Linked DNA regions of Homo sapiens: region 2 is linked to region 1. The links come from fine-mapping of genetic effects on gene expression. A gene starts in region 1. The other region holds a variant in brackets. All regions are shown on one strand. Distances are from middle to middle.

What was found. PIP is the estimated chance that this variant, and not a neighbour inherited with it, causes the effect.
Region 2: its variant is the best candidate, but not a certain one, in a credible set for the expression of ISG15 in fibroblasts (GTEx, PIP 0.54).

Annotation. Positions count from the first base shown.
Region 1 is chr1:1,011,342-1,016,555 of GRCh38, reverse strand. It overlaps ISG15 (ISG15 ubiquitin like modifier), which reads right to left and starts at 3,059. Exons shown (of 2, transcript NM_005101.4): 1 at 2,980-3,059; 2 at 2,016-2,572. The coding sequence starts at 2,982. The coding sequence ends at 2,078. RefSeq lists a silencer at 800-1,020 and enhancers at 1,447-1,496, 1,947-2,006, 1,306-2,197, 2,167-2,576, 2,198-3,089 and 1 more.
Region 2 is chr1:981,552-986,765 of GRCh38, reverse strand. PERM1 (PPARGC1 and ESRR induced regulator, muscle 1) reads left to right here and starts at 4,673. Exons shown (of 4, transcript NM_001394713.1): 1 at 4,673-4,701. RefSeq lists a silencer at 2,340-2,429. The variant A/G (reference allele first, on the strand shown) is at 3,019.

The DNA of each region.
Region 1 (5,214 bases):
CTAGCTGAGAGTATGACCCTGGGAAAAGTAAGTAATTTTTTTAAAAAAAGGACTGGGTCAGTCAGGCCCAGTGGTTCACACCTGTAATCCCAGCATTTTGGGAGCCCGAGGCAGGCGGACCACTTGAGGCCAGGAGTTCAAGACCAGCCTGGCCAACATGATGAAACCCCATCTCTACTAAAAATACAAAAATTAGGCCGGGTGCGGGGGCTCACACTTGTAACCCTAGCACTTTGGAAGGCTGAAGCGGGCGGATCATGAGGTCAGGAATTCGAGACTAGCCTGGCCAATACAGTGAAACGCTGTCTCTACTAAAAACACAAAAAAAAGTTAGCTGGGTGAGGTGGCGGGCACCATTAATCCCAACTACTTGGGAGGCTGAGGCAGGAGAATTGCTTGAACCCGGGAGGTGGAGGTTGCAGTGAACCGAGATGGCGCCACTGCACTCCAGCCTGAGCGACAGAGTGAGACTCTATCTCAAAAAAAAAAAAAAAAGCACGGGTGCGGTGGCTCACGCCTGTAATCCCAGCACTTTGGGAGGCCGAGATGGGCGGATCACGAGGTCAGGAGATCGAGACCATCCTGGCTAACACGGTGAAACCCCGCCTCTACTGAAAATACAAAAAAAAATTAGCCGGGCGTGGTGGCGGGCGCCTGTAGTCCCAGCTACTCGGGAGGCTGAGGCAGGAGAATGGCGTGAACCCGGGAGGTGGAGCTTGCAGTGAGCAGAGATCGCGCCACTGCACTCCAGCCTGGGCGACAAAGCGAGACTCCGTGTCAAAAAAAATAATAATAAAAAGGACTGGGCCTGTGGTGCCCCTCTCACCCCAGGCTAGCTACAGATCTCTGAGCCAGAAGCCACAAAGGAGGCCCTGCCCTGCCCTGCCCCCGTTGGGGGTTCAGGAAAGGCCCCTGGCTAAGTGCTTCACTCGCCCATTGTGACACAGGGGTGAGGTGGGGACCCGGACACAAGGCTGGAGCCAGGACACCCCCTGCTGGGCACATGCGGGCACACACAGTGGTCCTGGTGCAGCCAGATGGGGGTCTCCCCACCTGGATATGGACCCCCACAGACCAGGGGGGACTCTGTGTCTCCAGCCGGATCCTCCCGAGGGCTCTGAAAGCTGAGGCCCAAGTGCCCAGAGTCCGGACTCTGCATGTCCCTCTGTGCCCCGTCCTCGCTGCATCCCAGCCGACATCCGTGCCCCGTCCTCCCTGCTTCCCGGCCAACAGCTGGCTTCTAGGAGACTCATTTAGCAAATTGGAATAGGAGAGACAGAGAAGGGTGCATGGGTGGGGGAAGGGGTGTAGCTTGTAGCTTGTACTGAATTGGGGGCCCCCCACCTGGGACAAGCTCTGCTTCCTGGACGGTGTCAGCCCCAACTCCAGGTGCCCTCCACTGCTGGCCACGGCCCCTCCTTCACGCACAGCCTTGAGGGGGTGTACTTAGCCACCCAGGCTGTCTTCTGCAGCTGGCCCCAGTGGTGATGTGAGTGCTCAGGACCTGTCTCTACCCCTCCCTAGCCCAGCCCAGGCAGGTGGAGCAGGCTGTGTAGGCTGGGCTAGGGACGGCTGAGGTCCCCAGCCCCCAGTTCCTATGGAGAGCCTGCCTCACAGCCCACCGGGCAGGCCCCAAGGACTCACCCCTTACTGCTCCCAGGGGCCCACTGGGAGCCTCCCCTTTTGATCTGATCAGGCGGGTCCCTGCCTAAGCCGTCTGCTGTCCCAGATGGAGGACAGGCAGGATGGGCTCCAGCAACTGTGTCTCTTTTTCTTTTCCTAGAAGTTAATTTCCCAAAGGGTGGGGAGAGCTGTCTTACTTCAGTTTCGGGGTGGGGGGCTCCCTATTTTGATCCCTCGAAGCTGTAACTGCAAACCCTTATCCCTTCACTTGGCAGCCCAGGCCTGGTCACCAGGATGGACCCTGGGTTCTCCCTCCTGACTTCTCCCGCCCCATCACCAGGGGTCTGAGGCGGACGCTGGAGGAGGGGCAAGCACAGACACAGAGGCGGCCATTTCTCTTTACAACAGCCTTTATTTCCGGCCCTTGATCCTGCTCGGATGCTGGTGGAGGCCCTTAGCTCCGCCCGCCAGGCTCTGTGCCGCCTCCCCGCAGGCGCAGATTCATGAACACGGTGCTCAGGGGCTTGAGGCCGTACTCCCCCAGCGGGAGCTGGTCCTCCAGGGGCTTCCCCTCGAAGGTCAGCCAGAACAGGTCGTCCTGCACACCCTCCAGCCCGCTCACTTGCTGCTTCAGGTGGGCCACGGTCTGCGTCAGCCGTACCTCGTAGGTGCTGCTGCGGCCCTTGTTATTCCTCACCAGGATGCTCAGAGGTTCGTCGCATTTGTCCACCACCAGCAGGACCGTGCTGCCGGGGCCCAGGCCCTGGCTGGCAAGGGGGACCCTGTCCTGCAGCGCCACACCGCTCGGGTGGACAGCCAGACGCTGCTGGAAGGCGTGCACGCCGATCTTCTGGGTGATCTGCGCCTTCAGCTCTGACACCGACATGGAGCTGCTCAGGGACACCTGGAATTCGTTGCCCGCCAGCATCTTCACCGTCAGGTCCCAGCCCTGCAGGCGTCACACAGGTTCAGAGACTGCGGCGCCAGCCCCAGGCCCACCACACACAAGGCACTGGCTGCAGGGCGAGCTCCTGTACCCAGGGACAGTGCTCCCTCCTGTCTGTCCTCTACATCCCGCCGGCAGGGACCCCAGGCACAGAAGGCACTGAGGGCTCGTTACTAGAAGGCCAGCTGCCCACCGCCATCCCGTGGCCTCCCTTTACCTGCTAGGGTGCCCCTCTGTGCCCCACCCTGAGGATCTCAGGGGTGACCTGCTTTCAGGAGCACACTTAGAACCTGGCCAAGCTCTGAGCAGCTCCGCTCTCCCTGCACCCCTGGGAGACCTTGGCTGGGGGAGGGAGACGAAAATTGGCTGGCACAGAGCCCACCTCCCCCCACCTGTGACATCTGCCTTACCATGGCTGTGGGCTGTGGGCTGTGGGCCACGGCACAAGCTCCTGTACTGGCAAAGATGAGTTCGCTGCCTCTCAGCCGCCGGCTTCGGCAGGCAGCACCGGCCCTATTATAAGCCTGAGGCACACACGTCAGGGGGCGTGCCGCCGAGCCTGCGCTGGTGGCCAAATTTGGCTTCAGTTTCGGTTTCCCTTTCCCGAGGCATGCCCCAGAGTGAGCGGAAGAAACAAAACCGAATGACCGAAAGACAGGGAAAAGCAAAAGTGGCGGGGACTCCGGACAGCGGACGGCATCCCCACCCCCACCCAACACCCTGGAAACACCTAAATATCGCGCATTCCAGATCCTTCACAGGATGCACTAAAGCTGTCATCACATGGACTAATGGTTTCATTTTCCATTTACCAACTTGCAAAATTAGTAAACTTGGAAAACATCCCCATGGTTAATTGAGAAACAAGAACTCCAAACTACCCAGAGATAACAACACTCGGTTTAGGGCAGTATTTGCTCAGATTGGTGTTTTTTTGTTGTTGTTTTTGTGTTTTTGAGACAGGGTCTCTCACTCTGTCGCCCAGGCTGGAGTGCAGAGGCACGATCTCATCTCATTGCAACCTCCGCCTGCCAGGCTAAAGCGATCCTCTCACCTCAGCCTCCCACGTAGCTGGGACCACAGGGGTGCACCACCAGGCCCGGCTAATTTTTTGTATTTTTAGTAGAGATGGGGGTCTCGCCATGTCGCCCAGGCTGATCTCGAACTCCTGGGCTCAAGTGATCCACCTGCCTCGGCCTCTGAAACTGCTGGGATTACAGGCGTGAGCCACTGCACCCGGAGCCTCAGATTGTTTTTTAATAAAAGAGACCTATCTTTTATTTTCTACAAAAATGAACTCTGGGACACTATTGAGAAAGTGAAAAGACAATCCATAGAATGGGAAGAAATATTTGCAAATTATCTATCTGATGAGGGCATAGCATCCAGGACATATAGAGAACTCTTACAACTCAATAAAAAATAAAAATAAAAAAAAAAGGCAACTCAATTTTCAAATGGCCAAAAGACTTCAATAGACATTTCTCCAATGACATAGAAACGGCTGTAAAGTGATGTTCAACATCATTATTAATTGGGGAAATGCAAATCAAAACCCCAGTGAGATGCTATTTCCTGCTGGTATGACTGTAATAATAAAAATAAAGGCCAGGCCGGGTGCGGTGGCTCACGCCTGCAATCCCAACACTTTGGGAGGCTGAGGCGGGCGGATCACCTAAGGTCAGGAGTTTGAGACCAGCCTGGCCAACATTTTTAGTAGAAACCCCATCTCTACTAAAAATACAAAAATTAGCTGGGCGTGGTGGTGCACGCCTGTAATCCCAGCTACTTGGGAGGCTGAGGCGGGAGAATCCCTTGAACCCAGGAGGCAGAGATTGTGGTGAGCCAAGATTGCACCAATGCACTCCAGCCTGGGCAGCAGAGCAAGACAGTCTCAAAAAATAATATAAAATAAACATAAAGGCAGTAACAAGCACTGGGGAATACATAGAGGAACTGGAATCCTGGTACATGCATTGCTGTTGAGAATGTAAAACAGTGCGGCCGCCGCGATGCTCAAAACGTTCAACAGAATTATTGGGAACCCAGCAGTTCCACTTCTAGGCATGTGTCCAAAAGAATTGAAAATAGGTGTTCAAATACTTGCATACAAATGTCCATGGCAGCACAGTTTACAATAAACAAGTAGCAGGAACGGAGCACATGTCCATCAGTGATGGATGGACACACAAAGTGTGGAATGTCCACACAACGGAATATTATGCAGCCATGAAAAGGACTGAGGCACTGATTCATGTGAAAGAACCTTGAAAACGTTATGCTAAGTGGAAAGAGCCAGACACGAAGGCCGCAGAGTGTTGGTTCCATTCACCGCAGGGGAAACGACCGGAACTGGTAGAGCCGCAGCACAGGAAGCCGACCCCGTTACCGGGGGCCAGGGAGGGGGAGTGGGGGGTGATTGCTTCAGAGCCACAAGCCCCTTTGGGGGTGACAATGTTTCAGAACTCCACAGAGGTGATGGTTGGACAACGTGGTAAATAACTAAACGCCACTGGATTTCATTCTTTAAAATGGTTAGTTTTATGTTATATGAATTTCACATCAATAAAAAGCAAAGGTGAAAAGGCCTCACCATACTTTCACTGTTTTGTAACCTGCTTCATTCATGCAACAGTGTATCATAA
Region 2 (5,214 bases), 30 kb after region 1:
GTCTTTTTACCAAAGAAGATACATGGATAACAAATGCACACGTGAGAAGATGCCCAGTGTTGTTCATCATTAAGGAAATGCAAATTAAAACCAGAATGAGCGCCTACTGGGATGACTGAATTACAAAGCTGTCCCGCGCTGAGTGTGGGTGAGGACGAGGACACGGAGCCTGGAACCTCTAGTGGGAATAAATAATTGTACAACCACACTGGAAGACGGTCTGGCAGTTTCTCAAAAAGTTAAACATATACCTATCATATGATCTAGCCACTCCAATTCCGAGTATGTACCCAAGAGAAATGAAAGCATGTGTCCACACGGTCAACCCCAGGTATCTGAGACAGGTCTGAATCCATTTAGAAAGTTGATTTTGCCAGGCCGGGCGCGGTGGCTCACGCCTGTAATCCCAGCACTTTGGGAGGCCGAGGCGGGCTGATCACGAGGTCAGGAGTTCGAGACCATCCTGGCTAACACGGTGAAACCCCGTCTCTACTAAACATACTAAAAAATTAGCTGGGCGTGGTGGTGGGTGCCTGTAGTCCCAGCTACTCGGGAGGCTGAGACAGGAGAATGGCATGAACCCGGGAGGCGGAGCTTGCAGTGAGCCGAGATGGCGCCACTGCACTCCAGCCTGGGCGACAGAGCCAGACTCTGTCTCAAAAAAAAAAGAAAGAAAGTTGATTTTGCCAAGGTTAAAGGTTAGGGACGTGCCCGTGACACGGCCTCAGGAGGTCCTGACGACCTGTGCCCGAGGTGGCCGGGGTACAGCTGGGTTTTCTACATTTTAGGAAGACATGAGACTTCAATAATATGTGTAAGATGTACATTGGTTCAGTCCCAAGAAGCGAGACAATTTGAAGAGGGGAGAGGGCTTCCAGGTCACAGGTGATAAAACAGAGGGTCGCATTCTTTTGAGTTTCTGATTAGATGTTCACTCATCTCAGCAAGCAGAGGAACGGCTTTGAATTCTGCTCATCCTGTGTCTGCAAGGAGTTCCCCTGTGAACACGTCCTGAGGGAGGGAGGCAGCTGTTTATTATTTAAATCTTAGAAGCTGTCTTTTTAAAGAATAGAACGGGAGGCAGGTGGGCCCTAAGCAGTTGCCAGCTTGACTTTTCCATTTGGCTCAGTGATTTGGGGGGTCCCAAAATTCACTTTCCTTTCACAGTACAAACACTTGTACACAAATGTTCGTAGCAGTTTTACCTGTGATAGCCCCAAACTAGAAATAATCCAAATGTCCATCAAGAGAGGCATGGATACAGAAACTGTAGTGTATCCAACAATGGAACACTTTGTATGAAAAGCAACAATTGACATATACCACAGTGTGGGTGAATCTCTAAGAAACGCTGTCACAGAGGACAGGCGTGTTGTACTTTTCTGTCCTGTACGAAGAAGGGCCCAGCGGACAATTCTAGCCAATGCAACTTACTCTGCAGGGACAGCGGATTCGGGGTTGCCTGAGTGTGGGGAGGGAAAGAATCACCAAGGGGCCAAAGGAACGTTTGGGAGTGTTGGAGACGTTTGTGGTGGCTCCCGGGGGTATATGTGTCCAAACCTAGCGAACTGCACATTTTAAATACTTGAAGACCGGGGCGGCTCACACCTGTCATTCCAGCACTTTGGGAGGCCAAGGCGGGCAGATCACTTGAGATCAGGAGTTCGAGACCAGCCTGGCCAACATGGCAAAACCCCATCTCTACTAAAAATACAAAAATTCTCCGGACACGGTGGGCGCCTGTGGTCCCAGCTACTCAGGAGTCTGAGGCAGGAGAATCGCTGGAACCCGGGAGGCGGAGGTTGTAGTGAGCCGAGATGGAGCCACTGCACTCCATCCAGCCTGGGCGACAGAGTGAGACTCCGTCTCAAACGATAGATAGATAGATAGTTAAATAAATAAATACTTGAAGTGTATTACGTGTTAATTATACTTCAATAAAGCTATAAAAAATGAAAAGGAGGCCGGGCTTGGCGATGGCGACTGTGATCCCAGCTACTCAGAAGGCTGAGGCTGGAGGATCACTTGAGCCTGGGAGGTGGAGGCTGCAGTGAGCTGGGATTGCGCCACTGCACTCCAGTCTGGGCGACAGAGCGAAACCCCATCTCAAATAAATAAATAAATAAATAAATAAATAAATAAATAAATAAATAAGAAGGAAAAAAGAAAGAAAAGAAAAAAGAAAGAAAAATAATTCCGCAGCTGTGTACATTGTTTGCGGCTGTACCCGGCATGCGATGGTTGCTCATGGATCAGCTCCCCGACTGTCTCAAGGTCCGGGACTTTCACCCGGGCCACATGGCTTCAGGAAAGGGAGCCGAGCAACCGCCCCCAGAATCGCCCTTCTCGCCCCCCGCCCTCCCCAGGAGGGGCAGGACCTGGCGCCCCCTGACCAGGGCAGGAGCCGCTGAGCCGACCGCAGTGGTGTCCTGGTGCCCTCTGGTGGCCGCTAGGGGCACAGCACGTCCCCATCCTCCCAGGGGACCCTGCCCGACCTCCCCCCGCCCCCCGACTTGCCCCCCAGGCCCGGGTCTGGTCTCTGCCTCCACCGTAGAACTGGGTTATTCCTCCTCCCTGGACTGAGGGGTGCTGCTGCCTGAAGTGCAGGGGGGCCCTGACTATTCCTCATCCTACAGCCACCCTCCCACCAGGAAGGGTCATGACTGGGCTGGATACAGGGAAGGGCTTCCCCTGAAGCCTCAGGCCAACTCCAGTGACAGCTCGTCATGAAAAGGCCTCAGGGTAGGGCCCCTCCCTCCGCCACCCTAGACCTCCTCGCACAGCTCCCTGGCCACAGCCTTGCCGTCGGCCTCCCTGCCTCTCCTGTCCCAAGCCCCAAAGCCTTCTCATCTCGTGATGGTCCACGTGGGGCCCGGATGCCACGTGCATGCCACCCAGGATGTGCTGCTGGGTCAGCTGAGCGTCCACGTGAAGACAGGAGTCCCGTGCCCCCCACCTCCCACCTCTCACAGAAGTCAATGCCAAGTGTGTGGCAGAGCCGAGCGTGAAAGGCGACAC[A/G]GTGAAGTTTTTTTTTAAATGAAGGAATAGGCCGGGCGCGGTGGCTCACACCTGAGGTCAGGAGTTTGAGAGCAGCCTGGGAAACATGGAGAAACCTGGTCCCTACTAAAAATACAAAATTAGCCGGGCATGGTGGCGCCTGCCTGTAATCCCAGCTACTCAGGAGGCTGAGGCAGGAGAATCTCTTCAACCTGGGAGGCGGAGGTTGCAGTGAGCTGAGATTTTGCCATTGCACATCAGCCTGGGCGACAAGAGTGAAACTCCGTCTCAAACAAACAAACAAGCAAAGAAAGGTACCGTTATGAGGGTGGAAAGAGGAGGCAGAGAGGGAGAAGATTCCCCAGTACAAGAGTTCAATGAAGAGCTCGTCCAGAATACGTAAGGACTCCTACAGACCCACAGGGAGGAGGCACAGGGAGGCGGCCGCAGCCGAGAGACGCCACACAGAAGCAGATGCGCAGCTCCTGGGAAACTCCAGCCTGGAGCACGGCCACGCAGCCACCTGGGGAACGGGGCGGCACCTTCTGACGCTGACCCCAAGCGTCCTGGAAATGTGAGAGGTTCGCCGAAAGGAATGTTCCCAGATATTCACAGCCGCACCGTGTGTGGTAGCTGCAAACTGGAAACGACCCACATCGCCACCCACGGGAAACGGCACAGCCGCGTGGCACGTTCACACAGGACAGCCTCACCCGCCCGGGCAGTCGCCCGCGGCCCTCATGGCAGCTGTCTCCAGAGCACGGCGTGGGCCCGAGGACACAGATGCAGAAAGGGATGCAGGGTGCGATTCCACTTGTGAAAGCTCAAGTCAGGCCGGCCCTGCGTGGCGGGACGCCTTGTCCTGTGGTCTCGTGGCAGCTACTTTCTGGAAAAGCATCGTATGGCACCAGGCATGCACTTTCTGCACGCCCAGCTCTCACTGCCACCCCTCACGGCGCACACCCCAGTCTCCTAGTATCGTGCCCTGAACTCTCAGGAGCTTCTCGGTCCAAGCCTCCTCCTTAGAGAGGTCTCCGGCCCCTCCAGCCACGCCTCTCCCTACTTCTTTCTCAGGACGTGCTGCCATCGGAGCTGAGCTCACCTGCCTGTTTGATCGGATGTTTATTGTTGGATCCCTCGCCCTGTCCTCTTGTCCCCTCTGGCTCGGAACCTGCCTGGGAATGGGCACCGTGAACCCCAAGGTCAGGACGGCCTGGAGGGTGCAGCTGAGCGGAGCCAGGCGTGGGGGCTCTGACGCTGACGCTCCCTGGCGTCACTCACCCTCACATGAGCCCCAGAGGTCAGGACCGGGAGGCACAAGCCCTGGCCGGGACACAGAGGCCATCTCAGAAGCAGGCCAGGAACATTCCAGGGGCGGCAGGGAGGGCAGGTCTGAGGTTTCACCGCGGGTGGCGGAGGCACGGGAACTGAGCGGTGCTGCCTGCTGGTCAGCGTCCTCCGGCCCGTGTCTGACCCCACCTCAGCCCGGCCCCGTGCCAGGAAGTCGTCCTCATGTACTGTAGCTGGAGGGCCCTCAAATGCCATCTATTTGTGGCCTGGACCCTGATGGCTGGCACGAGTCTCATGTGGCCACAGGGACGTGGTATTTTTGGCACAGGGGGAGGAGCCTGTGCAGCCACAGCCTAGCACCATGCCGACCCAGGACGGGCAGCTCAGACGCCCAGCTCGGCCGCCGGGACCCAGGTAGGACATGGTCAGCTGCTGGCTCCTGACCCAAGGGGCCCCAATGGTAACAACCCCCACAGAGGCTTCTCAAGAGACCAGAGAGGAGGGCGAAGGTCAGTGGGTGGGAAGCCACCATGCCCTGGCCTCCGTCTCAGGACCGTCCCCACCAAAGTGACTTCCCACCCCTGGGTCCAGAGGGGCTGACCTGAGGCCGAGGGCGGCCCCCTCTAGGGGTAGACCCGACAGCTGGCTAGGGTCTCCTTGCTTCTCTGAGACGGGGCAAAGGAAGGCACCCCGGGCAGCCGGGCAGGCCTGGATCGTGGTGCAGACCTCGAGGACGGCCCGAGGTGGCTGCTGGGTCAAGAGACCCACCGCAGCCTGCACCTCCTGCCCAGGCTCTCCGTGCTGACTTGGGCCAGCTCTGGCCAGCACCACCTGGTGAGCTCAGAGAATAGCCTGGCCCAGCCAAGGCGATCGGAAGGTCATCGCCGAGGGCTGGGCACCTGCTGGGCCCTGTAAACCTTTCCTGTG